Linked DNA regions of Homo sapiens: region 2 is linked to region 1. Evidence: fine-mapped expression QTL. A gene starts in region 1. The other region holds a variant in brackets. All regions are shown on one strand. Distances are from middle to middle.

Region 1 (14,146 bases):
TTTTTTTGCATTTTTACTAGAGACGGTGTTAAGCCTTTGGCCAGGCTGGTCTCAAACTCCTGGTCTCAAGTGATCCACTCGCTTCGGTCTCCCAAAGTGTTGGGATTACAGGTGTGAGCCACTGCACCTGGCCCCAGGTCAGATAGTCCTATAGTCTTATTTCCAGATGAAGAACTGAGTACAGAAAAGGAAAAATTAAAACTATTGAAATTTAAAAAGAGATCATTTATAAAGAGGAACAAACTACTGATACATGCTACCACATGGATGAGCCTCAAAGACATTGTGCTCAATGAAAGTGGCCAGACACAAGAGATCACATATTGTAAAATGTCATTTATCTGATATATGTAGAAAAGGCAACTCCATAGAGACAGATCCCAGATTAGCGGTTGTCTGGGGCAGGGGGTAGGAGTGGGGATGATGAAATATTCTAAAACTGGTTTATAGCGTTGTTTGCACAACTTGGTAAATTTATTAAAAACCATTGACATGGGTGAATTACATAATATGTAAAATATTCCTCAATAAAGTAAAAAAAAGAAATGCAATTACGTTCTGCAAATATAACATTTCCTAAGCAGCCATGATCCACTTTACAGGAATTTCTCCAGTAACTAACAGCTCATTCATTTGTTCACCTGAACTCATCTTTGTTGAGCACCTATTATGTGCCAGGTACCATGCCAGGATATGGGTTCCAGGGTGAATCTGATCAAGTGCTTCTGCTCTAATAGAGAATATGGGTTAGCAAGTGTTAGAAGGCTGGGCTAGAAGGGGTGGAGATGCAGATGAGAAATCCAGCAATGACAAGAGCGTATACTTGGGGCTGCCACAGGGTGGGCAGTGCTGGCAGAGCCTGGAGGAAGCACCCTCCACCCAGACCTGGCAGGTACTTGAGAAGGTTCCGAGAAGAGAAGTTTCCGAGAAGAGAAGGTTCCGTGCTTGAGGCTGGGACCTGAAGGATGAGGAGTTGTTAGCAGGTGAAATGGCTGGGGAGTGGGGCAGGAAGAATAAAAGTCATTTTCTCATTCATTTCTTAATTCTTTTATTCATTCATTCAGCAACTGTTCATTGAGAGCAGTTATGCCCATTTCCCTGATGAGGAAATAGAGCCTCAGAGAGGTAAAGTGACTTAGATACAAACCTTAGCCAATCTCTTGTCTTAAAAGCCCACCTTTTTCCACTCCCCACTCTTGCCTCCAAAAACAGTCTGGACAGGTTAGACACACCGCTGTGACTTTGAGGGTCAAGGGGAGGTACCCTGCCAAAAAACAAAAACCTAATTATCCTTGTTTAGTGAGAGGAGGCTGGCGTCCCCCACAGGGATGTTCCTTTGTCTGTTGGAACTCTTCCGCTGCCTTGAGGACCCACCTTTAGCCCCCTTTGGATCTTGAATGGGGGAGCCAGCCTGCCAGTGTCTGGGGTTAAGGGGAGGAGACCACTGAATTCATTGTCTGGGCCAGGGAGGACCTACCATTGGAAAGGGAATGGGACCAGAATTCCAGACCAGGCTTTGATACCAATTATTCAGGAGACCTGGGTCAGTCCTTACCTCTCTGTGGTCCTCAGTTTTCTGGTCCCTGAAACAAGAAATCTGGGCTGGCTGTATCCTGAACTATAGGACTTCTGGCCTCAGATGCCTCCAGATTGATATGGGCTGGAAGTAGGGTGACACATTTGTTCTGATTTGCTCGTTCTGATTTACTTTCCAGGTTTTAGCATCAAGAGAAACCTTCTCAGTTCCTGATAAATTGGGATGGTTGGTCACCCTAGCTGGAGGACTGTTAGGTTAACCTAACCTCACATTTTACCCACAAAGAGCAAGACACGCAGCACCCGCCTTTATTCCTATGTGGCCACGAAGCTATTTTCAAGCCATTTTGTTTGCACATATCATGTTTCTAGGGTTCAGCTGAAAACCCTCTCAGGTCCAGCTACCACTTCCCTCAATTCCTTCAGATCTTCTGGGCTCTGCTTGGCCATCTCCTTTTCCCCCCTCTGCACCCACTCCCATGCCTCAGGATGGTCTTTTTTGGTTGTCTCCATCAGCTCCCCTGGAGCCCCTTTAGCTCCTTCCTCTGCATTTAATGCAGGATTTGTGCCGAAGCAGGTGCTCCACAAGTCATCACGGAAAGTCTGAATATCTCCAGGGCCCAGGGCAGGGCTGCCCCCACCCTCAAGGAGGGCTGCACACCCCAATTCCAGGGCAACTTTGTTGGAAGGACAGATCCTTCCTGGAAGAGGTTGCAGGGAGCCACTCCCCAGGTGTGACTTCTTAACCCTTTCTCTTCCATGGGACCACTCAGGCATTGGGTGGAGCCTGTGGACCCCTTCTGAGAATAATTTTTTTAAAAAGGCATTAGGATTACTATGAAAAGTCATTTTACTAAAAATAGATATCAAACTATTAACAATTTCTCATATAGTAACATACGTTCTCTTTTACTAATACATTAAATAAGATTTAGTGGTCGGTCTAATATGACTTTAATTTCACAGTTCTCGTAGCTTAGATGATATCTTGAGATGTTTACAATAACTGTAGTGTGTTACATAAATACCTGTGATTTCTACTAGTGACAAAATCACAGGGACATCTACTTGCTGCCTACATTCATAATCAAAGGATATGTTAAAAACCATTGGCTGGGCACGGTGGCTTACGTCTGTAATCCCAGAACTTCGGGAGGTCAAGGTGGGCGGATCACCTGAGGTTGGGGGTTCAAGACCAGCCTGACCAACATAGAGAAACCCCCATCTCTACTAAGAATACAAAAAAATTAGCCGGGTGTGGTGGCGCATGCCTGTAATCCCAGCTACTTGGGAGGCTGAGGCAGGATAATCTCTTGAACCCCGGAGGTGGAGGTTGTGATGAGCCAAGATCGCACCATTGCACTCTAGCCTGGGCAACAAGAGTGAAACTCTGTTTCAAACAAACAAATAAACAAACAGACAACAAAGCCTTTAGAGATTAGTGAGGCTAAAGGTATAACTTTTGTCCACCCCTGTGTCATGGACCCCCCAGAATTCTATCCTCAGTCCTCTTGGGGGTCCATGAACCTCTGCTTCAAGGCAAAGGGGTTTTGATTCCTTAGGTTAGATAAACAAGAACATCATCAAGAGACGAGAGAACGAAGAGTAAAGGGCAGTGTCCAGACTGGGTTGGGTTAAGCAGAGAAAGGTTTCTAGATGAGTGAGTTTCAGAGCTGGGTGTTTAAGGTGAGTCCGTGTTGGCAGGAAGCAAGGAACTGTGGTTGAGGGAAGGAACTATGGGGAAGGTTTGCTTTTGTGGCTAAATCAAAAACACAGCAGACTAACATCACAGCCACATCACTCCAGGGCAAGCCCGTGTCTCCTTTGTCACCAAGAACACCAAGGCATTGTCCATGTAAGACAGTGTGCCTGTCCTCAAGCTTACATACAAAGAGACAAAACAAACACAAAAGTTAATAACAAGACAAAAATTAAACTGCTAGTAAAAAATGCAGTCGGAAGTATCTGAAACATGCCACATATCTGGTTAAGTGCATACAATGCAAGCCACAGGCGTTCAAAGGTGGGGGTTCAAGGTGGGGGTCACCTCCCCTCTGAGGTTTGCGGTGAGGACCAAATGCGGAAATGGACACGAGGCCCGAGGCCAGCATTGTGGAAGGCCGGTTAGAGCATGCACTTTGGACCATTGTGGCTACTTAACGTCTCAGTGACCTTCTCTGTAAAATGGGGATAATAAATAAGTATGGCGCCTGACATATACTAATGTTTGCAACACGGTTCAGGAGACACCAGAGACTGGAGAACTTGGCCTTTAACGTGGTAGGTGTGAAAACATTTGAATGAATGAATGAATGAATGAATGGGTCCTCGGGTTGCCTCGGTCTGCCCCAGGCGGCCCGCTAAGCCCCATGTCTGTGAAATGAATCCCCAGCTCTCGGGGTCAGCTTCATCTCAGCGTGTGGGTGTGGGTGGTGGGGAGGTGCTGAGCAGCTCAGCAGAGGCGAGGCCCAGGCCGAGTTTGTGGGTGTCATCCCGGGAGGGTCTTGCTCGGCCTCCCCAACCCCCATGCTGCTCGGCTCCTCAGTGGGCGGGGGAACCAGCGGGCTTAGCTGTGCCCGGGCCGATCTCGAGAGGACAAGGCCCGCAGCTAGCATTCGAGGAGCCCACCCCCGGGTCCGCAGCGTGGGGCACGGGCGCCCTCTTATCCCCGAAAGGTCGATCTGGGCCTCCCCAGGCTAGAGTGGGGGTGGGGTGCCGATGCACCTTCGGATACTGTGGTCCCCCAGCCCTTCCAGCCGCGGTCGCGCACATCCGAAGGAATTTGGGGCCAGGGGCATTGCGGGCAGAGAGGACAGAGAAACGGAGCCCTCTCGGCAGGCGACGTGGGAGAGGAGCGCCCTAAAAAGTGGAAAGCGAGCGTTGCCGAGGCTGCTGGCCCCTTTAAGAGGCCCGGCTGGCTCTGCGGCGGTTCCAGCTAACCCGGTCCCTGGTGCAGCTCTGCGGTCCGGGTCCCCCAGCAGAGAATCGGCACCCGGCGGGGAGGCAGGACCAGACGCAGGAGAGGGCGTGGCCCCGCCGGGGAGCTGGGCGGAGTCTATGCTGCGGAGAAAGCGGGAGAACCCGGAGGTGGGCGGAGCCGAGGGTCTGTGGGTGGGGCCCGGCGCTGCGGGCCTCGTGGGGCGGAGCCTCGGGCTCGGGGAACGCCGCAGAGGGAGGAGGGGTGGGCGGGGCCGCGGCGGGGGCGGGGCCAGTGTCTGCAGTGGGCGGGGCCCGCCGCAGAAGGGGCAGTGCCGGCCGAGAGTCCTCTGCGTGCGGCTGCCGCGGCCCCTCCACAGCGTCTCTGACAGCCCGGGCGGTGAGACCCGCGACCCTTCTGGCCCCGCGCAGATACCGCGGCCTCCACCGCGTCCCGAGGAGCGGCCGAGTGCCCTCTCTCGCCTCGGCGCCCGCATCCGGGGCCATCCGTCCTGCCGTCTCTGCGGAGGCCGCATCTGGCGCGCATCTGGAACCGCCCGGCCGGCCGCGCTGGAGCCCGCGCCCACCCTGGCCCGGCCGCGCCGGGAGCCCTGCCCGGAGCTGGAGCCGCACCTGGAGCCGCGGGCCCGGGGCCCTGAGCCGCGCAGCCGGCGCATGGTGAACTCGCTGCTGTTCGGGGAGATGGCCTTGGCCTTCGGCTGCCCGCCGGGCGGCGGCGGCGGGGGCTGCCCTGGCGGGGGCGGCGGCGGCGGCGGGGCAGGGCCGGGTCCGTCGCCGGTGACGGCGGCGCTGCGGGACGACCTGGGCTCCAACATCCACCTCTTGAAGGGGCTCAACGTGCGCTTCCGCTGCTTCCTGGCTAAGGTGCACGAGCTGGAGCGGCGCAACCGGCTGCTGGAGAAGCAGCTGGAGCAGCAGCAGAGCGAGCGCGAGCGGCGGCTGCGCTACAAGACCTTCTCCCGCGAGCAGGCCGTGCAGACCGGGCCCGAGTTGCTGCGGCCCCCGGCGCCCGGCGGCGGGCACGGCCTCAGCAGTGGCGCGGCGGCCGGCGCCAACGCCAATGCCGTGGCCCTGGGCGGCCTGCCCCCCGGCGGCGGCTCGCACCCGCAGCACTACGGCCGCCTGCCCGGGACCATCTGGAGCTACACGCAGGTGCGGCGCACGGGCGGCGGCGGCGTGGAGACCGTGCAGGGCCCCGGCGTGTCGTGGGTGCACCCCGACGGCGTGGGCGTGCAGATCGACACCATCACGCCGGAGATCCGCGCGCTCTACAACGTGCTGGCCAAGGTGAAGCGCGAGCGCGACGAGTATAAGCGGAGGTGAGTGGCCGCCCCTCCCCCGCCGCCCTGGGACGGGGCGCCCAGGTCCAGGCTGCCGCGGAATGCGTATGCGGGACGGGGGCCGGGCGGGCAGCTGGTACTGGCAGGTGGGCTGGAAGCTGTGTTTGCAGAGCGTCTTACGTACGCCAGGAAGGCCCAGTTATCTAGATCCCAGGATGGGGGCGGGCGCTGGCTACCGTGGGGGCCACCTCGATGCTGTCACTGGTGAGGCACATTGTTTTCTAGGTGACATAATAACTGTCTGTGTTTTATGCGATCTCATTTAATTCTCAGCACAATACAGCGTATTGTGTAAGGCAGTCTTATCCTCATCTCGCAGATGAGGAAACCGAGGTGCAGAAATGCTAAGTGATTTGCCTAAGGTGGCTTGGCGAGTAAGTGGTGAAACCGGGATTTCAACCAGAGATTTTAACCACTCCTGGCTAGTCTGTCTCCTAGCATAAGTATTTTTACCAAGGAAGTAGGAAATATGCTCCCCTCCCTCAACATATGAAAAGAAAAACTCTAACCAACCCACTGCCTTTTTATTTCTTGAATTAAATGAGATCACGTTTTTGAAAATGGATGGATCTGCCCCTACCCCCTGGGGCCAGTGTCTGCCGTCTTGCTCCAGCTCTGTAAGGTCCAGCTTGCTGGGTTGGATAACCACAACTACAACAGACTGCTCACAAGCTTTTATAAAATGCCTCCTTTCATCCCTCTTCTCCCCACTCCCTGAGTCTCATGGTTTATTGAGCCCTAACAAACTCAGCCTTAAAAGCCCCCAGGAGAAGATAATGTTGGGCTGGAGACTGGACATTGAATGGACTGAGACCACAATCTCTGGCTAGAACTGGGGTCCAGACTCTGCAAGACTGGCCAGTGCATTCCTGCCTAGCCCAGATTCCCCAGCTGGGAAACTGTCATTGCTTCCTGTCTGCAGTCTGGCCGACAATACTGTCTGCTTGGCTTTCCGATAAGAGGAGAGGGGTCTCCTATCCTCCTCCTCTTCCCATAAGAGAAGAAGGGTCTGTCTTTGGCATCTCAGGCCTGGCTGGGGAAGGGGCCCTCTGGCCCTGGCAATCGCTGTTCCAGGCACAGGCAGCCTTCCATTCGGAGCTATTGGCTCTGAACTCCAGGGCTTGGAGGATGTACTGAGAAGGACCCTTCCTTCCATCTCTAAAGGTCTGTCCAGGGAGCTGGGCATAGGTCTCCTTCCGTATTCTCCCATTGGACAGGCTAGCAACTGGGTAGGATTCAAATGCCAGCCTTATACCTGCTGGTGAGATTATCAAATCACTTGAAAGCCTGTTTGCTCATCAGAGAAATGGGAATAATAAAATCTGCCCACAGTTGCTCGAGGAGACAGCAGGATGGTGATGCTCTTTGGGAGGTATAAAGTAATCATGCTGGTGTTATTAAAGATGATAGGCACTTTGTCAAGCTAGCAGGGAGTAGAAATGCTGAGAGTCCTCAAGCTCTCTCATGTGGCGCCTAGCTTCCTGGGGGTAGGTCTTACACTCCACTGGGAGACGGGCTTCTCTCCTGGGTTACCTGTTTCTCTGGAGGACTTGAGAATGGCCCGCCTGGTGCCTTGCCACAGGGAGGCCACCTCGCCGCCCCTCATGGTCAATGTCATTGGGGCAGGCTAGGGAAGCAGGCACTTGCTCTCAATGGTGAAACTGGGGAGGGATGGGCCGGGCCCTCCTGTCTGCCACTGTTGATTGTGTTGTCATGCCTCAGGCTTGTGTTGTGTTTGTTTTATTGTGTGTGTGCTTTTTGGACCTGGCTACTAAGGTGATGGAAAAACCGTGCCCAGTCTTGGAGGGAGATGGGTTGGCATTGAGCAACGATCTATTCAAGTTGCACCCAGGGCGTGGGGTGTGATGTCAGCTTCTGGCGCTGGCCTGGAATGAGACGGTGCTGCTGAGACAGGTGGAGTGCGGGCGTCTCTCTTCCCGCCCTTCTGGGATGCGTGCACACCTTGTCTTCCATTTATTTTCTGAAGTTAACTCAAGACTCATGTTGGATTTTTCCAAAGCAGGTATATTCCTTTCCTGGGGCCTCAGTTTCCCCGTCTGTGAAGTGAGGTTGAGGGGGGGCTAGAATTGCGGTCCTTGAAACCCCAGGCTTTCTTAGAGATGCTTTAGGGTTTCCTTGAATATCTAATAAAAATGATCATTTAAAAGAACATTAAGACGTTAATACAGTGATAAAAATGTGCTCACCCACCTTTAAGTTCTTAATATTAACTCACTGGGTTCTACTAACATGCTAACTTGTTAGTAGTATGTTTTGGGTATCCCTAAGAATTTTCTTTGGGGAGGAGGGCAGACATTTGATAAACATTTTTTAAAAAGTTGAAAAACCACTGGGCTAGATGATCTCAAAGGGTCTTCCCAGCCTTGGCAATATATAAATCTGAGTTTGAGCTCCCAGCCCGCTTCTGATCCCCTGGCCATAAGAGAAGTCACCGTCTAAGGGATGAGACCCAGGTGTCTGCCTGGACTGTTGTGGCCATGAAGGGCTTTAAATCATCCCAGGATATCTATTACAGAACTCCAAGCAATGATGCCCAGAAGGAGCCTAACCCAGAAGGGAAAGGTTCCAGGGTTTCCCCTGGTCCACCTGGAGGAAGCTGCAGCTCCAGAGACCCCCACTTGCTTCCCCAAAGGACAACTTAGGCTGCGAGGCTCAGCGATCTTCAAGCCGGACGCTTGTTGAGTTCCACCTCCATGATTTCTGGCCACATCCATGTACTACCGCCTGTGCTATTACGTACATAAAATATTTTAACAACTTCATTGAGGTACAACTTGCATATCACAAAAACTGCCCATTTTAAGTGTACAAGTCAAGATGAGTAAATTCACAGAGTTGTGCAGTCATTACCACAATCCCGTTTTAGGGCATTGCATCAGCCCCCAAAAAGATCCTTCATGTCCATTTACAGAAAATTCCAATTCCAAGCCCAGCCCAGGTAATCACTGACCTGCTCTGTCTCTAGAAACTAGCCTTTTCCGGACATTTCATAGAAATAGAAACATACACTCTGCAGTCTTTTGTGTTTGGCTTTTTTCACTTAGAGAATTTTTTTTGAAGTTCATCCATGTTGTAGCATGTATTTGTAGGCTGTTCCTTTTTATAGCTAAAAATATTCCTCTGTAGTATAGACCATATTGTGTTTATGAATCCACCCAGGTATTCAATGTATTTTAAATTTAAAACGTCAACTGTATACCACCGAGCATCATCTCATGTGCCATCAGTGGTCCACAAACTGTGCTTTGGAAACACCAACCCAAACCAGAGCCCCTGGCCTGGGGTGCCTGGGTCCTGGCCCCAGTCACCACTGCTTTGGTTTTCCCTTGGCCCAACCAGGTCTTTACCACGTGGGAAATGTGGTCGCTGAAGCCGCAATGAGGACGAGGTTGTCAAGCGTTGATTTGGAAACCAAAACAAACATCTCTACTCTGTCACCACCCAGGGCCACTAAAATATCTTGTTCTGACTTTGCAAGCTGGGGGCTTTTCCCTGGAGTTTCCCACTGAGTTTATCTGAACTCAACAGTGGAGAGTTCCCTGAGTTGGCATCCAGGAGACCTGGACTTTAGGTCCAGCTCTGCCACTAGGTGCTGTGTGACCTCTGGCCAACCGCTGCCCTCTCTGGGCCTCAGCTCCTCCACCTTTACATGCAGGAGTTCCTGTGGGTGATCTCTCTCAGCTTGCTCTCTACTTTAGGTCAGTGACTCCAAGAGGCCCGTGTTGTGGCTGATCTTTCTGCCTCTGGAGACCACACTGTGTTCGCTGAAGCCTTTCTCTGTTCTGGGCTTCCCCTTCCCTCTCCTATCTCTGCCCCAGATAACTAGGGTCCAGGCTCCAGGCATAGGCAGCGCTGGCCATCCCATCCCCAGGCTTAACCGGTTCAACCGTTTCCCCTGTCTTCATTGGCTCCAAGGAAGGATGCAGGAAATCTTTAAGGCTGTCAAGAAAAAGGTCCCTCCAGCCTGGCAGCTGTCACAAAGTTGCCATGGACTGGTAGGGGAAGTTGCCCTGGGCTGGTAGAGGAAGTTGCCCGGCGCTAGTAGTGCTGGCCTAGCTGCCTATCAGACAGGGCGACTCTTTTGGGGGCCTGGTGTCCCTGTCCAGAAGCCTGTCCAGCCATCCTGGCCCCCTCAGGCCTAGTGTGATTTGCAGCTGGCTGGCCTGGTTCCCTCCCGTGCGAGTGGCTGACTGTATGCGCCCCCCAGTTGAAGTCAGCCTGGAGGCTAGGTTTCTTTTTTTCCTGGTGCCTGGGGTGATTGGAGGGTGGTTTGGGAGCCTGGAGAGACCACTGTGATCATTCAGCCTGGTGGCTTTCAGGTGGGCTTTTTAGAGCCCTGGAGTCCATAGCAGGGCGCCTTGGGAGACTCGGGGGACAGTGGGAGGCTGAGTACCTGAGATTTGACCCATGTTGCCCACCATAGCTCCATGCCTCTCTGACTCCCAGACTGTCCAAAAAGTATTCCATTTTAAAAAGGGTTCTGCTGTTTTAAAAAGAAAGAAACCGCTGATTCAGCTGAGTACTTTCATTTTAAAGGTGGGGAAACCAAGGCCCAGAGGGGGGCTGGCCCTCAGTGCTGAGCTGGACAGACCTTCCATCTGCCGTGCAGAGCTGGCCTCCCCGCCTCGACATGATGCCCGCATCATCCGCCAGCAGTCGAGGCTTTGTTATGTTCTTTCCACCTTTTTGTATGTCTGTTTTAAACATTTTTTTAAAAAGCCACTTTCTGGGATGGGAGGGACTTTTGTCACAGCTATTTCTGACTGTGAGCCGGAAGGGGCTGGGCTGTCGGCTGGAATGGAGGACTCCAAAAAGGGATGGTGGGTGGGTCAGCTGGAGTGTCCCCCGCCCATTCCCGTCACACCCCAGGGGGGCCCTCAAGCAGGTGGGTGCTGGCCCCTGAATGTCCCGAAGCCCGAAGGCTGCCCTGGAATAGAAAGCTGAGGGCTTTGTTCCCTGCCACTCCCATTGACACTTTCGTTATTTCTGAAGCTGGCACCGATACGGATTCTTTATTTCTGATTTTCCAGTGAGGCAGCCTTCGATGGTGGAAAAGGGTTTTGCATCCTGGCTCTGCCACTGTCTGTGTGAACATGGGCAAGTGGCTTGGCCTCTCTGAGCTGCCCGTGGAGCTCCCCGCTTCGTCCTCTGTAAAAGAGGGATCATCTTGTTGCTCTCCCAGGGATTGAGAAGGAACAAATGAGGTCTGGTGTTAAGGTACCTGGGGCTTGGCAGATTTTGGGCATACCTACCTCCACCCCAGCCCAGCCCCCTTCCCCTGGCAAAGTCTGTTCCTTTAATTTACAAGGATTTCTCAGCATGGCCCTGACTGCCTAACAAGTCCATTTCAGGGCATGTCGCCGCTCTCTCTGTCCCATGGAGGCGCCAGAGATGGTGTTGGGGGTGGAGGGAGAACGGCTGCTTCTTTGTCCGGCATCTAAGAAGGCTGTTTGACCTACTCTTAGCAGTTGATTTGTGCCTCCGGAAATCTCTCGCCATCCCCCAGCCCTTTCTCCCAACTTCCTTTAAGAGAAACACACAAACCCCTCCATCTAGCGCCTCGGGTCCCTTGAGAACTATATTACAGAATCCCTTGGCTGGGTTGGCATTCTCACTGGGGACAAATTTGGGAGCGATTCTCAGAGCCTCAAGCTAGAGGGAGGGGAATGAGGTCCCAGAAAAGAAAAGGAAGCAGGGAGACAGCTGACGCTGAAGATTCCTTCTCAGAGGAATGCGAGGCGGGGCTTTGCCTTGGCAAACGAGACCGGATGCGGGTCCCCGGGTCCCCCTTCCCCCCACGTGTATGCACACTCACACTCACACACATGTACGTGCACACACACACATTCACATACACATGCAGATGCACACACCAGACTCTCCGTTCAGTCCTGTGGCCCACGTCCCCACACATGACCGTGTTTGAAGGACACAGAAGGGTAGACCCGGAATTTGAACACGCCCTTTGCTGCAACGAGATGCGTTGCCTTCCAGGAGAATTGATTTAAACTGTGCCATGTGTCAGTGACACCGGAGGCTGTGGGCTTTGCATTTGCAGTCCTGGCTTTTGATCGCATTGAGAGGTGAAGGCCGGCTGGCATTCCATTTATTTCCTATGTCGCGGATGGCTGAAGGCCCGGGACGGGAAGGAGGCAGCCCTGTCATGTCCCTGTGCTCAGGATTAGGGATGTGTTGCTTTTTCCTGACTTTCTGCTGTCAGGCGGTCCTAAGCACCCACCACCTCCCGATCACAGCCCCCCACACCCGGAGTTGTAACTACCTGGCATGTGTCTGCCCCTGCATCGACTGGAAGCTCTGTGGGGGCCGGCTCCAACTCTGGCTTCGTCTCCCACTGGCAGATCCCAGCCAGGACCTGGCCAAGGTCCATGCTGAGTAAATACTCATGCAGCAGGGAGGCCTCTGTGTCTGGCTGCTGTGAGCTAGTAGGCCTCCAGGAGGATGGGACAGAAGACGGACAACACAGACCACGTCCAGGGATTCGGCTGTTTGTGGAGGGGAGGGCCTGCACTTGGAATCAGAAGGCCTGGGCCAAAGTTCAAAGTTTGAATGAACCCCCAAGCCTGGCAGTGCAGGGTGCTGGGGCCCCAGGGCAGGAGTTAAAAGCCGAGTGAGCTTGGGCTAGTCACTGCCTCTCGAGCCTCAGTTTCTTCATCTGTAAAACAGGGATGCTAAGCTCTGTGTCCGGAGGTTGTGGAAGAAGTAGACAGGCTCGCCTAGCTACAGCACAGGGCGTGTAAACAGTCAAGTTCAGAATGATTTCACAGGGCAGAGAGTGGGTGCCCTACAGAGGCAGATCTGTGCTGGCCCTGTGGGGTGGGCAGAGGTTGAGAACCAAGCTGGAAACTGGGAGAGGGTGTCCCGTGCCCTTTGCTGGCAGCATCTGTGAGTTGCACAGCCCTTTGAGCATTGCCAGACTGTGAGGTGTTTAGAAAATTCCAGGCCAGATGGGAGACTGCTGAAGGTTTGTGATGTTGCCGCCGCCTGCCCACGAGGGGAGTGTCCTCCCACCCACACTGGGCACCGGGTGCTTGGCTTCCTGAGCAGGATGTGGTTTCTCATTCTAGACCTGGTACAAGAGAGGGTAGTTTTCACCCAACAGTAAACCTGGCAAATGGCAATGCCTGGTTCTCTGGAGGGTCCGTGGAGCCCAGGTCCTGGTCTGGGTTTGCCTGCGATGTGGTCTGAGCTTCACTATGCCCACGTGGGAATGGGGACAGTGGGAAGGTGGGCTTGCCCAGCAACCCTATGAAGACTACGTTCTCTCCGTAATGTAGCACAACTCTGTGCATGCCATTTAATCTCTTGCACCTCAGTTTGTCGCTCTGTACAATGGGGGTGTGGTTTCTTACGAGTTCTGCTTCCCAGGGTTGAGGTAAAAGTCAATTAAAACAGTGCAGTAGGAAAACATTTTGCAAAAGGATTTGAAAATAAATCAATATGGCTTAATGCTTCCGTTTATTGAGCACCTACTTTGTGCTAGGTGCAGTGATGACTTCTTTAAATATGTGATAATTATGGGAGCAGTCCCAAGCAGTGGGAAGTGATTATGCTCATTTTACAAATGAGAGGTTCAGAGAGGTGAAGACTTCTGTCCCAGATCTCGCCACGAGTCCGTCTGGGTCTCTGGACCCCAAGGTCAGTGCTCCTCCCAGGAGGTGGCCTTGTCCCATGCCCCTGGAGGTTGCCAAAGGCTGGCTCAGGGTGAGGAGGCAGGCAGGAGGCACGGGGTCTCCCCAGCACCTGTCACAATATTGCCATGGCGGGTGGCAGAATAGGAGGCGGCTGCTGCGCTGGGAAGACTCCCTGCTGTCACTTTACAGAAATTATTTCTTGAGAAGCAAATGAATCACTGGCAGTAGCAGGCAGATGAGGCTCCCGGGCCACTGTAGCAGGCCTGTCCAGGCCCCTGCTCTTTGGAGAAGGTCTCAATGGGGGCTGGCAGGGCTGGCAGGGGAGGAGTTGGGGAACAGGGAACACATATTATGACCCGTCTGGTGATTTCCACGCGGTCTCATTTAAACCCGGTGGTGGCACTGCAGGATGGAAACCGAGGCTCAGAGAGGAGAAGTAACTTGGAAGTCAGGCTCCAGATCCAACCTTTATCCTGTGCTGTACCCAGAAAGGGCCATGCCCATTGCAAGCCGCTTTCCTGCTGTGAGCCTCAGTTTTCATTTCTGTGAAATGTTGCCTAGCAAAGCTGGGGCAGGCTGTGGATCTCAGGCTCTCAATTAATGCTCCATTTATCTTGCCCGGCCCCTGAGTGTCCTCAGGGCACAGCCAGCCCGAGGTTC
Region 2 (14,408 bases), 24 kb after region 1:
TCCCTGGGAGGCTTTGCTCCATTTCATTCCCCGTCTCATCTTAAGGGGACTGACTTCTCTCTCCAGCCCCATGGGTAGTTGGGAGGAACACTCTTGTTTGTGTGTTGTGGGGTTGCCTGGTGCTCAGCCTCCACACTCCCCAGTGGTTCACATCAGGTGGAATGCCAGGGCCCGCCATGATGACAGGAGCCTGGGATTAAGTAATGAGTCCATCCCCTTGAGCTGTATTTAGTCACTAATTCTTTTGGTGCGCGTGTTTGCAGTCTAATTACCTGCCTCAGCTGCGCTGGAACCTGCCCCTTCCCAGCTAGTGAGGACCATGACGGCTCTGCACAGACAGGTGACCGTTGCCCTGTTACCCATCCTTGGTTGCACAAGCCCCACGTGTCTTTTGTTAGCTGGGTCCTTGTCACTCTTCCCTCCTCCCTCCTGGAGATTGCTCTGGAATGTTCTCCTCCCCTTACCAGCGGCATGGCAGGCAGCTCCTAGTCTCTGGAGTTGCACTGAGCCAGCCGCTGCCTGTGTGGGACCTTGGACATATCACCTCCCACCTCTGAGCTTCAGACTTCTCATTTATGAATGACCTGGACTTCCCCGTCTGATGTCCTAGGATCCTGTGTTCTGTGCTTTTTTTTTTTTTTTGCCCCACCTGCAGCCAGTTTGTGTTTGCACATCCTCATTGAATCCAGGTGGGGTCATTCTCACCCATTTTACAGGTGAGGAGACTGAGCCCTAGAGAAGTGACTTGGCTTAAGGCCGCAGAGCCTTGCTTTCAACCCAGGTGTGCTGACTCTTGCCTGGTGGGCTCTGCCTGGCTGCCAGCCCCTCATTTTTTCAGGCTGCACATGATAAGGAAAATCTGGGCTCCCAGGCAGCTGGCTCCAGGGCGGCTGCGGGTGAGTAAGTATGCGGGAGATTACCCTGAGGTGCCCTACATTTACCTCCAGGGCAGCACAGTCACTTGGAATAAACAGTGGAGAGACCCAAAGTACATATTAGGTTTCCAAAATAGCCTTGGGAGTTGCTGTTTTTCTCAAAGCTGTAAACATAACCCTGGGCCTGGGGGCCCCCACACTCTCCTGGGCACAGACCCCCTGGGCCTCCTGCCTCTTGACCTGAGTGCCCAAAGACCTGCTGCCCAGACCCCCTGCTGGCTTCCACTTAAGCAAGAGCCAGCAGACACGGGATGGGGATGGGGTGGAGGGTCCATGGGGGCTTGGCCAGGCCTAGGCAGAAAGACAATGTCCCAGGGATGGAGAGCCGTGGACACCAACTTTCCCATCATCTGCTCCATGCAAGGTAGGCCCAGGCTTCAAGGTGCAGAGAAGAGAGTAGCAGAGTTGGCCTGGACTGTGGAGGTTGTTTGGGGAAACTGAGGCTGGCAGGGAGGGGCTGGCAGGGTGGCCATATCTAAGGCGACAGGGCTGCATTGGCCTAGATTGGATCTCCTAGAGAAGGCCCTGGAGATGACACTTACTGGGCCTTTTTAATCCAGTGAATATTTATGGGGCCTCCTATGTGCCAGGCTCTGTGCTGGGCACTGGAGTTGCAGCTGTGACCCATAGATGGGCCTGATCTTGAAAGAGATGAGGGCCGGGCGCAGTGGCTCACACCTGTAATGCCAGCACTTTGGGAGTCTGAGGCGAGAGGATCGCTTCAGCCCAGGAGTTTGAGACCAATCTGGGCAACATAGTGAGACCTTGTCTCTACAAAAAAAAAAAAAAAAAAAAAAATAGAAAAATTAGCCAGGTGTGGTGGCATGCACCTATAATCCCAGCTACTTGGGAGGCTAAGGCAGGAGGATCCCTTGAGCCTAGGAGGTCGAGAGAGCTGTTGTTGCACCCCTGTGCTCCAGCCTGGGCACACAGCGAGATCTTATCTCAAAAAAAAAAAAAAAGACAGAAGGAGAGAGAGAAAAGAAAGATGAGTTAAGCAGAGGAGACCAGCAGGGGATCAGTAACCTCAATACCAAGTGGCCCAGAGCCTTTGTAGTACAGAATAGTGGCACTTGACCCTGACCAAGGAGTCGGGTCAGCCTCCTGGAGGGGGTTATAAGCTGGGTCCTGAAGTCACATTAGGTAAGGGAGAGAGAGAGGAAAAGGACAAAGGGGAAGGGGTGTAGAACCTGTTGGGCAGAGAATGCAGCCCATGCCTTGGAGGTGTGATGGAGCTTGGCACAGGGGGGCTGGAGGTGTTGGGGGGATGCTATTCAGCCTTACTCTACCCTAGCACGTGGCCTTGTTCTCCAGGGCTTATCACCCACCAGGTGAGACCTCTGTCTACCCTTTTGGAGAAGAAGTGTCTGGCCCATTTCTCAGATGAGCCTGATCTCCCAACCCTTGCTCCTTGGGGAAGGTAGAGGGCCACTGGTGAGGAAGAACAGTATTTATAGCGGAGTCTTCCTGCACCCAACGGAGGCAATCTTTTGACTAATGAGGAAACTAAGGCACAAAACATTGTTGCTGCAGGAACTGGAGTAAGGGCCCAGGACCCTGCTTTTCCTTGGCTCCCTGGGCAACTGGGAGCCTGTGGTAGAGAATGCCAGAGAGCGTTCTCTCTAACACGTCACACATGGCTCTTTAGAGGGGCACAAAAGCCTTTTCTACATCTGCACACTTGATCCAGAAACCCAATCTGGGTATCCCAGAGGGATACCTGGACACATATGCAAATGTGAGGGTACAAAGGTGTTCACAGTCTTGTTTAGATTGCAAGGACTCTGCGCTGACAGTGGAGGACCCATCAAACCAGTGGCCCTGCAGCCACCTGCTGTGTCACCTGCTCGGGAGGATGCTGCCGTATATTGTTAGGTGGAAAAAATGCATTTGAAAACCACATATGGTCGCATCCCGTTGTCGTTAAAAACCAATCTCATAAGAAGAGAAAATCTCATAAGAAAAAGTTGGGAAGGATATAGAGCCGATGTTAACCGTAATTCTCTCAGGGAGGGGGATTCATTTGGGTGGGTTTTACATTGGTTTTATCTGGCTTACCTGTTTTTTTCTTTTTCTATTTCTTGTGTAATCATTGTAAACACTCATGCAATTTAAAGCAAGGGGAAAACGAGCAGGTATTTTTGTCTTTTAAAAATTTAAGTGGTTTTGATGTTTTGAGCAGGTATACATGACATCATTCAAAATTAAAAAGATACAGAAGGAGGGGAAATTCTGACACACACTACAACATGGATGAACCTTGAGGATATTATGCTAAATGAAATCAGCCAGGCTGGGCGCGGTGGCTCACACCTGTCATCTCAATACTTTGGGAGGCCAAGGTGGGAGAATTGCTTGAGCCCGGGAGTTCGAGACCTGCTGGACAGCATGGTGAAACCCCGTCTCTACAAAAAATAATTTTTAAAAATTAACTGGGCATGGTGGCTCATGCCTATAGTCCCAGCTGCTCCAGAGGCTGAGGCAGGGGGATTGCTTGAGCCCAGGAGGTGGAGGTGCAGTGAGTTGTGTGATTGTACCACTGCACTCCAGCCTGGGCAACAGAGTGAGACGCTGTCTCAAAAAAAAAAAAAAAAAAAAAAAAAAAGAAATAAGAGAAATAAGCTATTCACAGAAGGACAGATACTATCTGATTCTATTTATACAAAGTACCCAGAAGTCGAATCCACAGAGACAGAAAGTAGAAGGGTGGTTGCCAGGGGCTGCGGGGAGAGGGGTACGGGGTACTACTGCTTAACAGG[C/T]ACAGTTGCAGTTTTGCAAGATGAAAGAGTTCTGGAGATGGATGGAGGTGATGGTTGCACAGCAGTGTGAATGCACTTAATGCCACTTTAAAAATGGTTAAGATGGTAAATTCTATGTTATATGGTTTATTTATTTATTTATTTTTGAGACAGGGTCTTGCTCTGTCACCCAGGCTGGAGTGCAGTGGCGCGATCTTGGCTCACTGCAGCCTTGAGGTCCTGGGCTCAAGCAATCCTCCCACCTCAGCCTCCTGAGTATCTGGGACTATAAGCGGTGCCACCACACCTGGCTAAATTTTTTGTAGAGATGGGGTTTCGCCATGTTGCCCAGGCTGGTCTGGAACTCCTGGGCTCAAGTGATCCACCTGCCCAAAGTGCTGGGATTACAGGCGTGAGCCAACGTGCCTGGCCTGTTATGTGTATTAAGAAAAGATACAGAGGGGACAGAGTGACAGTTCTACCCCATAATCCCCAGCCACCCACGTCGCTGCTGAAGGGAACCAATGTTTTCAGTGTGATGGTGGATGCTTGGTTTCCTTTCTCGTGCCCCTGGGTACAAATGGGCAGTGGCAACTTGGATGGGGCCCCTTCACTCATGGACGGAGGAAGATGCCCCCTGTCCCAGGGTGAGCATTCCCTTCCATCCCTGCTTGCCTGGCACAAGGCAGCCAGTGCCCAGAACTTCCCACACTTCTTGGGTTGAAGGGATTGAGGATCTGAGGCTGGAGGAGCCAGAGGTCCTGCCCCAGCGAGAGCTCCGGAACTCGCCTCCCCTCTCTCAGCAGGAAGAGAATACTCTTAATCCACTTCTGTGTCCCCAGCACTTGGCTCCTGGGTGAGCACTTGGGAAATGTTTGTTGATTCTGTCCTGGGGGAAGAAGATGAAATGTAAGCCGGCAGCCAGCCTGAGTTGGGCTGTGGGAGATATTCTGGGCTGCCGGGCCTGGGTGTCTCCAGAAACACCCAACGCTCGCTCATGAAGGCTCTCTTGGTGCCAGGTCTTGTGCCAGGCACTGGGATATGGTGCCGAATTGGATACAAGGGAGATGGGACGTCCTCCTGTGTGTCTTGACTGTCGGTGTGTTGCCGAGCATTGGTAGCAGAGGGGGCTGGTTTGGCACCCAGGTACCCTGCCTCATCCCCGGGGCCTTGGCCAGTCTACACAGAGGAACTGCCCTCCAGCTGAGTTACCCATTTTCCATGGCAGGGAGGACAGCAGAAAGGCCGTGTTCCATGACTAATCATAGCTTCCATCTATTGAGCATTTACTGGGAGCTGGGCACTGTGCTAAGTGTGAAACGTGTGTTGACTCATTTACTACAACAACCTGGCAAGGCAGGTTCTTCCGTTAGCCCCTGCTCAAAGCTAGGGGACCTGGAGCACAGGCGGTCAAGTGCTTGGCTCAAGGCACACAGCTCAGAAGTGCAGATCCTCTGCCCCTCCTGGCATCCCAGTCTGGGGGGGTCAGGGGTGGGATCTCTGCAGTCAGTGCCTGGGGGCTGGATGACAAGCTGCAGCCTCCCCGCAACCCCACGATTTCCATAGCGCAGTGGAGCCAGAAAGAAACAGACCATTTTACAGACCAGAGAAACAAGGTTGCTGCTCTCTCAGACCCTGGAGCCAGTGACAGGGAAGGCGGAGAAGGGACGAGAGCCTCCGTTTATTCGGAGCCTGTGTATACCCTCCTTTTCACAAACTGTAGCAGCCTCCAGAGGCAGGGGGGATCTTTATGATGACCAAATGGGGAGGCTTAGGGATTGGAAATCACTTGCCCGGGAGCGTGTGGTTGGTACCACTGGGATTTGAGCCTTGTTCCGTCCAGCTCCAGAGCTTGGTGCCTTTCTTGCTCACCACGTGCCGGCCCCAGCTCGTTGCCTTGGCAGTGGAGGTGGTGGTGTGCCGAGGCCTTCCTGCACCCTGGGTTCTCTGGCGCTGAGAAATAAGTGCATGGGCAAAGTGGCTTTGTTTCCAGGTCAGTGACTGTGACCCCATGTGTACACATCTGTGCATCTGACCGTGGCACTGTAACCCAGGGGCATTTTCTAAGTGATGTGCTGGGGGTGTGGGCAGGGAGTGGGGCTTATGGAGCCGACGAGACACCATCAGACCATAGAGAGGCTGCCCAGGCTTGGGAGCCATATGGACCTGGATTTGACCTTGAACAGGTCATTTCACCTGAGTGTGTATAGTGGGAATGATAACATCCGGCTCACAGAACTGTGGTGAGAATTAGAGATGGTGGGTGTCGAATGATTAGCACCTAATCAGCATTTTACAATAAATGCAAATTCTTCCCTTCTCGTAGAAGAGTGGAGTCTGATGAGAGAGACAGGGAAGTGAAAATTCACAGCCCCTGGATGCCAGTGCTGAAGGAGTGGGTTCAGGACTGGGAACATCAGAATGGGCATAGTGACTTATTCTGGGGAAGTCATGAAAAGCTCCCTGGAGGAGGTGATGAAGGGGTACCCAAGCCTGGAAGAGGCTGGCAGTGGTACTCCAGAAACTTCATGGTGGCCTGCAATTTGTGATGCAGATTTTTCCTCACTGTGAGATGCTGGTTGAGACAATTTCCTCCTTGGAGTGGCCTGGTTTTTTAGGGGTAGGGGGAGTGCCCACGTGGGTGTAGTTTCTAGACAGAAGCAGTGGGAGGAGGGCACTGCCAAGCATGCTGCTTGGGATTATGGGTGTCCACAGAGCTGCAGTTTCTCCAAAGGTGTTTTTTGTTTGTTTTTGAGACAGGGTCACACTCTGTCACCCAGGATGGAGTGCAGTGGCCCGATCCTAGCTCACTGCAACCTTGAACTACTAGGCTCGAGGGATCCTCCAACCTCAGCCTCCCAAGTAGCTAGGACTACAGGTGCGTGCCACCATGCCTGGCTAATTTTTAAAATTTTTTGTAGGGATGGGATCTCACTATGTTGTTCAGGCTGGTGTTGAACTCTTGGCTTCAAATGATCCTCCTGCCTCAGCCTCCCAAAGTGTTGGGATTACAGCCGTGAGCCACCATGTTCAGCCTCTCCAAAGTTGTGTTCAATAAGCAATACCAAGTGGCAGTGATGCTGGGAACCTGGGCAAATATAGACAGGAGGGAATTGGACAGGTGGCTCAGAAAACAACTGAAACCTCAGATTGGCATTGGGGCAGGTGACCCGGGGGTTCCCTGGGCCCCATGTTGCCCAAAAGAGCCAGCAGCTGGCCTGGGTGAATACCCTTAAATGCCTTGTGTGTGTTGGAAGGTGCCATGAGACCAGCTGGGCTCTCCTGCCCTGGACCCACCTGCTGCCACAGTGGCCCTTGTTAGGACAGACCTCAAAGGGCTGGGCATGCCCATTAGTTCCTGGGGTATGTCTATGGGGTGTGGACGGTGAAAGCAGGGTTTTCAGTGGGTTTTGCTGACGGGGGTTCTGTGGCATTAGCATCTGGCTTCTTTCCTTCTGCCACCCTGTCCCCTTGTACTGCCAGCCACCCAGCCAGGTGAAGGCGGCATCTAGCTCATTACCATGACTATCAACAACATGACTGTTATGCAGACAGTGGCTCTGGGGTCAGATGGCCTTGGGTTCAAGTCTGACCCCCTCACTTACGATGTGGTCCAAGAGCATTCTCCCAGCCTCTCCCCACCTCTCTGAGCAGCTGTCATTGGGAGGTCGTGAGGATGAGAATGACACCAATGGCATGCTCATGGTAGACCAGGCACTATTCTGGGCACTTTTCATATGCTATTCCATGGAATGTGGGCAAAACCCCTCGGAGCTGGGAGGTATTACCAAGGCCCAGAGAGGGTCATAGCTTGCTCAAGGTCACAGAACTGCAAGATGGATAGCTGGGATTTGATCCCAGGACCCTCTGGCTCCAGAGTCCCTGCTCCCCTCTCCACTACACACACTGGTTGGAACGCAAGGACAGACGTCTCAGCTGGCTTTTGAGCATTTGTGGTTTGTCAGGCGGCTTTGTGGTCAGTGTAGGATGCTTGTCCAGGGATCATGGCAGTTGTTTTCTGGCTTGGCTGGGTGGGCCCTTAGAATTCATCCAGTTTGACATCATTGCATTACTGATGGGAAAGTGGTGCCAGAGGAGGGGAAGGGACTTGCCCAAGATCACGGAGCCAGCTGGGGCAGAGGCAGGACTAGCTTCAGGACTTCCAGCACAAGGCTGCTGCCTCGTTGCCTGAAGGGGTGTGTGGCTGGGGGGCCGGAGCCCAGTTAGGGGCTTGCCGTTCTTTCCCACTCACCTCTCACCTCTCAAGTCACCACAGAGAGCCCAGAGACCAGCTAGCTGCCCTGCAAAGGGCCCCTTGGTCACCAGGAAACAAGTGGGGGGAATGTCAGGTGAGGGGAATGTCAGGTGGGGGAATGTGATGACCCCACACAGCTCATCCCCCCTGCCTGGCGATGGGACTCACTTTCACCTCCTTGCTGGGAAAACTCCTTAGCAACTCGATTTCAGTGCTGCCTCTCTCAGTTGCTCCTGGGTCCCCAGAGGGCCAGGACAGGTTGGAGAAGTGTCCTTGCTGAGGGGGCCCAGACTTTCACCCACCCATTTGCCCCTCCCTCCCCCAGGTGGGTAGAGCCAGGGTGACACCGGTGAAGAGCATGGGCATCATCTGTCAAGGGCATCTGTGTGCCTCACTTGAGCCTGCTCTCCTGATCCATCCATGAGCCCTACAAGGTGGGATTGCTATCCCCGTTTTACAGAAGTGGAGACTGAGGCTCCTAGCTTGAGGTAGGCAGGCCCTCAGGGGATCACACAGAGGCAGATGACTTTCTCAGCTCACCTGCCCTTCCTTCTGCAGAATTGCCTACAACCTTTGACTCTCTAAGGCCTGCGGGGCTCGTGGCAAGCCCTCAGGAACTGTTTATGGAATGAATGAGTGAGGGGCAAACGAATGAATGCATGCTCCCACACCACGCTGCTGCTTCTTCTGGGAGAGGGCACCCAGCGGGTGTCTGCTGTTGAGTGCAGGCTGTCAGAGCCCTGATGGCACCCAGGATAACTCCGGATGGAGTTGGTATCCCTGAGGCTGTCACCACTTCTGGACTCCAAGGAAGGGCCCTATCCAGGGCGTGCAAATAACACTGCAAATGTCATGTCCCGAGGGATTTTGGGAGATCCTATTATAGATGGGGAGACTGAGGCCCAGGGCAGAGAAGGGACTTGCTCAGGGTCATGCAGCAAATTAGCAACGCAGCCAGGGCATGAACCAGGACCTCCTGCTTCCTAGCCCAGTACCCGCTCTTCCACAGGGAACTTCCCTATGGATGTCAGACCCCTCTGCCTCTCCCCTGAGCAGCCTTGCGCAGACCTGGCACGCTGGGATCCCTGGAGGAGGCTGCCGTTTCTGGTTGAAAGCAGCTCTGTGTGTCTGTGTGGGTGGCAGTGTTCTGGGGGCACACTTGATTAGTGGCTTCTCAAACCTGGCCCCCATCCTCAGTGTACAGCCTGTGCTCCGTCCTGCTCAGGCCATTACTGCCCGCCTGTAATGGAATCGGCTGCCCTGGTTAAGTGTTCACATTAAATTAATACCTCCTCCGTGGAGACAATCAGTTGGCATTTAATTTGTCTTTCCTTCCGAGAGCTGGAGAGTACAGCTGGGCAGCCGGGCTCTGATGGGCACGTCTGCGAGACAGCCTTTCCTTGGGATCAGGGGCTCCATGGAGATGGGAGCCGGGAGGCCACAAGAGGTGGTGCCAGGTGTCCCCAGGGGGTGGGGCTTGGGGCAGGCAGGAGGGGGCCTCTTTCATGCGCAGGGGCTAGAGCTTATTGGCTGTCCATTTTCGGGGGAGAAGACGGGCTTGCAGCGTGCCATGTGGGAGAGAAAGTCAGGAGGCAAGGCATCCACACGTGCATCAGTGCTGAGCTGCCCAGGAGGTGAGCCCTGTGTTAGCAGTGGTGGCGGGATTTCCACATTGTATTCCCAGCCCTGCCCCACTCCCACTCCCTTATCGGATTTTCTTTCTGCCTTAAATATGAATTGTCTGTGGTATTCGAGGGGGATGGTGTGCAAGGAGGAAGTTGACTCGGTTGTGGTTTTCAGGTTCTCTAGAAGGGCTCAGAAGAAGCAAGTGGAGGCTGTTGGGGGCACGCAGCCCTGACCCCACCGGGGAGCCTGCTCTGGTCTTCCCAATCCATCAGCTTCTGCAAAACTGCATTTGCAGAAAGGGCTCCCCTGGTCTACCACTGTGCCTGCAGCCTCTTCTTCCAGCTCAGATATTATTTTAGAGAAGAACAGCTGATTGGGGCCCCCAGGCTTGGCCCTGGCTCTGCTGTGAGGATGCCTCTGTGCATCTGCAGGTGGGCAAACACAGGAGCTAGGGCAGCGCAGAGCTGAGGGGCATTGGCTGGGCCAAATCTGTGGTTTGAGCAGCCGGGCTCCAGCACAGCTCCCTGGCCACCTGCATCCAGCCCTGCTGCAGTGGGGTGAGCTCCCCGAGGCCAGGGTGGAGCTGAGAAGGTGCCAGCCCTCCACCCGCCGGGAAGGAAGCTGCTCTCTGCCCCCACCTGCCCTCTGCCAGAGGCCAGGCCCACGCTTGGCCCAGAATGAAGTCTTCCACTGAGGGCTCCAGCCCAGCCTCACCTGAGCTCATTTCCCTTCACCTGAGTGAGTCGGCCTAGGCGTGCCGGCCGCTCGCCTTCCCGCAAGGTGTGGGCCATTTCCACACCTCCCTCCCAACTCTGGAGGTGGGAGGCAGCCATGCGCTGTGCCGTTGACGTGGAGCTGCTGAACACCCATGGTCTGCTGGATGCCAGGGTGCTTTTACCCACACCATCCCCTTCCTGTAGTTCTCACAGCCACCTTCGAAAGGGGGTGGCTGGTTTCCCAACTCACAGAGGGGACAACTGAGGCCCAGAGAGGGTAACTGACTTGCTCAAGATCACGCAACTGGGAAGTGATGGGGCAGGATTTGAACCCGTCTCTTGCTGCCCTGGTGTCTTGGGATGCTCACTCCAGGAGCCCCAGGTTCGTCCCTGGAGGGCTTCATTGTTTTGCTGGGCCTGCACCTACTTTCCTCCTGAGCGGGAGCCTCGAGCCTCTTTTTCTGACTGCACAGGAAGTGAAAAATCTGTGAGTCAGCCCCTCTGCTGGTGACTTCAGCTTGGGTTTCCGCCCCTCTGTAGGGCAGGCTTGTCGGTCCCTTTCCTGCGGGTCTGTGTGTCATCTTGAGCTGACGGGAGAGGGGGAGGCACTGGCCCTGAGTGGGGTGGGGGTGGGGACTGGCATAGAATCTGCCCACCCCTTTTCCCCAGAGGCCAGCAGAGACTTCTCGTCCCTCACGTGGTTCCAGTGGTGGCTCCTCAGGAATGCGGAGAGACCACATCTGGCTGGGGTGGTGCTGCCACCTCTCCCTCCTGGCCACCAGCCTCAGAGAGTGCTTGTTCTGCTAAGATGGTGGCCGAGGCCCCTGATCTCAGCTGCTTTGTGCTTTTGTGGAGTCATTTCCTCTCCCTGCACTCTTTGTTCTGACATCCCTGCCTCCCCTCCCTGGCCCAGGGCTGTGGGAAGTGGGAAAGGGAAGGTTTCTCCTTCTCCTGCCTGCTTCCTGCCCTGGCCATCCCTCCCCCTGGCCTGGCCTGGCCTCTCCCAGGAGAGGCTCTGGAGCCGAATGGATGAAGCTGAGTGCAGGGGCTATGCTGGGAATTTGCCTCCTGTGAGCCCCTGGGCTGGGATGTTCAGTCTAAGGATGCTCTGGGGGAAAGGAGTTCTGTCTGGAGGCGAGGGCCATCAGGGCACTGAGGAGTAAGTGCAGCTTTGGATCCATCCATCCATCCATCCATCCATCCATCCATCTATCCATCCAACCAATCCATCCATCCATCCATCCATCCATCCATCCATCCATCCATCCAACCAATCCATCCATCCATCCATCCATCCATCCATCCATCCATCCATCCATCCAACCAATCCATCCATCCATCCATCCATCCATCCATCCATCCATCCAACCAATCCATCCATCCATCCATCCAACCATCCATCCATCCATCCATCCATCCAACCAATCCATCCAATCCATCCATCCATCCATCCATCCATCCATCCATCCAACCAATCCATCCATCCATCCATCCATCCATCCATCCATCCATCCATCCAACCAATCCATCCATCCATCCAACCAATCCATCCATCCATCCATCCATCCAACCAATCCATTCGATAAATGTCTGACTCCTTAGCAAGTGCCCAGCCAGTTTGAGGTGCAGGGAATACAGTAGCAAGCACAGGAATGATCATCATAACCAGCTCTCTGGGCCTGCAGAAGGACTGGACCCCCGACCTGAGACCCGGCTCCTGTGCCTGTTTTCCCACCTAGACCAGGGAACTTGCCTCTTGCTTCCTCTTTGCCCCATCTCTGTGCCTGAGACCTCCCGAGATGAGTGCCAGCCCCCGGTGGCGGTGGGGAAGGTGGAAGTGGCGGTGACCACACAATGGAGCCATCACTGGCCCTGGCGTCACGGGACTGGCTCCTTTGGGCAAGAGCTGTGTGCCGTGGGATCCCACAACCATGCCACTGGGGAAGAGGAGATCCTGGGGCCTCCACTGCTTTAAGCTGTGGGGCAAACAATGGAAGTGGATGTGAGGCTTGGGGAAGAGATGACATTTGAGACAAGCCTGGGAGAATGGCTAGGGTTTCAGGAGGCTGAGGAGGAGAGAGGAAGAGGGGAAATGAGTTACCTGACCTCTGAGCCTCATCTGCAACATGGGGATGATCCCCAGGGGAGGGCTCAGCGGGATTTTATAGAGGGAAGTATGAGTGCCTAATGTGGTGGATACCACCGAGAAGGTAATCAATAAATGTCCCTTCTCTCATCCAGCGCTAGAAAAGAGAAGGATTTGGAAGTTTTATGAGCTGTTGGGTCAGGGTGGGCAGGGGCGGCTCTCAGTGATTCAGGCCGTGTCAGCCGTGGCTGGAGTTGTCCATAGGCCCTGGGTCTTCATTTTCCCACTTGTAAAGTGGGGACAGGGTAGCTTTCCAGCCCAGTGCATGTGCAGTATGATGGAGGGGATCTATGGAAAGGCCCTGCAGAGAGCACTGGGATGTGTTTGTCACCTCATTTTCTGCCAGTGGCAGGCCTGTCAATATTCTGGAGTCTTCAAAAGACCAGAAAGGACCCCTCCCCAGCCAACAGAACAGCTCCTGGACTGCTGAGGGAGACTCGAGGAAAATGGCCTTTGTGCCCCAAAAGTGATCTCTTTATGTTCACTCCAGCCTTCCTTCCCCTTTCAGCCTTAAAGGGCCCGGGCGTAGGATTCTGTCAGACCTGGGTTCGAATCCAGGCGCTGCCACTTCCTAGGCAGTCTTTGGGCAAGTCGTTTGCTCAGCCATGGGCTGGGGCTGGGAGAGGGGATGGTGCAGGCTGAAAGGAAACGATGTCTGCAAACCGCTGATCCAAAGTAGGTGCACCCGCCTCTTGGTGGCAGACAGCGCCTGGCCTGTCCCTTCCTGCTGCCCTCTTTGTTTCTGTTGGTCCCTCTGCCTGAAACACCCTCCCCACTGAAACCTTACTCTTGTGGGCAGACCCAGGGAAGAGGGAGGGTTGTGCTTGGGAAGCTGGTGTTGAAATCTCTGTGCCAGCAACTTGGTTCACCAGTTCTCAGTTAAGCTGAGTGCTCCCTGGCTCTGGGTGGGTGGGCAGGGAATACAGGTGTCTGGAGTGCCGTAAGAAACACATCGCCCACCTGGCCCTTCATGCCAGTCCTCAGAACGATCCAAGGACAGAGCTTTTCTGCATTGTCAACACTGGAGCTGGCGGAGCCAGGTTTTCTCCACCACCGCCGGGAGGGATGTCAGGGCGGGCGACAGGCTCTTCAGTCAAGCCAGCTGCTGTCCACATGCGGGGTCTGTCCTCAACCTCCTGGGAGCAGGCCAGCCGGCTGCCTCCCCCGTCTGGCTTTGGAAATAAAAAGCCCGTGAAATCATTTGTGCAAGCTCATCCTGGGGGTGTGGTATGTGCAGTCAGGAAACACGATTGAGATGTGGGGTTGGGAGGGTGCAGAACTCGGGGCAGGAAGGGAGAGGTGAGGTGGAGGGGCTGGGTTGTGTGGTCTTCAGAGCCTGGCCACTCAGTGCCATCTGTAGCCCAGCATCACTGGGGAGCTGTCTGCCCCAGCCCTCGCCTGCGGAACCAGCTTCTGCATGTTAATAAGATGCCCAGGTGATTGGTATGCACATTCTAGGCTGAGACACGCTGCTTTAGAGACTGGACTAGCTTTGAGTCCCAGCTCCCTGCTTGCTAGCTCTGTGACCTTAGACAAGTTACTTTACCTCTTTGAACCTCAGCTCCCTCATCTGCAAGATGGGCTTAGTTAGAAATTCTTTCCCCAAGAGGGTTAATAATTCACATTCAAGCCAGTGATGTGTGTGTCCAAGGCAGTGAGCCGGGTGTGTGGGGCCCAGAACGTACCCCCCAGTTAATGGTTGCTGGTGCTGTTGCTGTTATTGTGTCTGGAAAGCCAAAGATCTGGGCTCCTGCTGTCACCTTGGGTGGATTTGGGGCAAGTCTCATTCCCTCTCTGGTCCTCGTTTTCTCCGTCTGTACAAGGGTTCTATTGGCCCCTGCCTCGCCTTCCTCATGAGATGGTTGCTCAAAGGAGAAGTGAGGGGTGCTGGGCCTCATTCCCAAGGGCCCCTCTGGGGAATGGGGAGTGTCGGGGAGGTGCCCCTGGGTGCCTGCGTCCAAGGGAGGAGCCATGCCATTCTTTATTTTTTGT

Which allele goes with the higher level. Positions count from the first base shown, and alleles are read on the strand shown. Sizes are in standard deviations (SD) of each study's normalised expression.
In carriers of allele T in region 2, the expression in regulatory T cells of the gene that starts at base 4,784 in region 1 tends to be higher than with C alone (moderate effect, 0.49 SD a copy in Schmiedel 2018).

The links. PIP is the estimated chance that this variant, and not a neighbour inherited with it, causes the effect. A credible set is the group of variants that fine-mapping cannot tell apart.
Region 2: its variant is the best candidate, but not a certain one, in a credible set for the expression of IFFO2 in regulatory T cells (Schmiedel 2018, PIP 0.59).

What each region holds. Positions count from the first base shown.
Region 1 is chr1:18,947,314-18,961,459 of GRCh38, reverse strand. IFFO2 (intermediate filament family orphan 2) reads left to right here and starts at 4,784. Exons shown (of 9, transcript NM_001136265.2): 1 at 4,784-5,792. The coding sequence starts at 5,128. RefSeq lists silencers at 4,602-4,771, 5,342-5,601, 5,842-6,031 and enhancers at 9,079-9,408, 9,429-9,478, 9,679-9,818, 9,849-9,978, 11,109-11,238 and 1 more.
Region 2 is chr1:18,923,190-18,937,597 of GRCh38, reverse strand. All of the region lies in intron 1 of IFFO2 (intermediate filament family orphan 2), which reads left to right. Among named protein-coding and RNA genes, the nearest start is that of IFFO2, 26 kb to the left of the region's middle. RefSeq lists enhancers at 594-1,139, 1,140-1,684, 1,685-2,230, 3,882-4,869, 9,379-9,428 and 4 more. The variant C/T (reference allele first, on the strand shown) is at 3,695.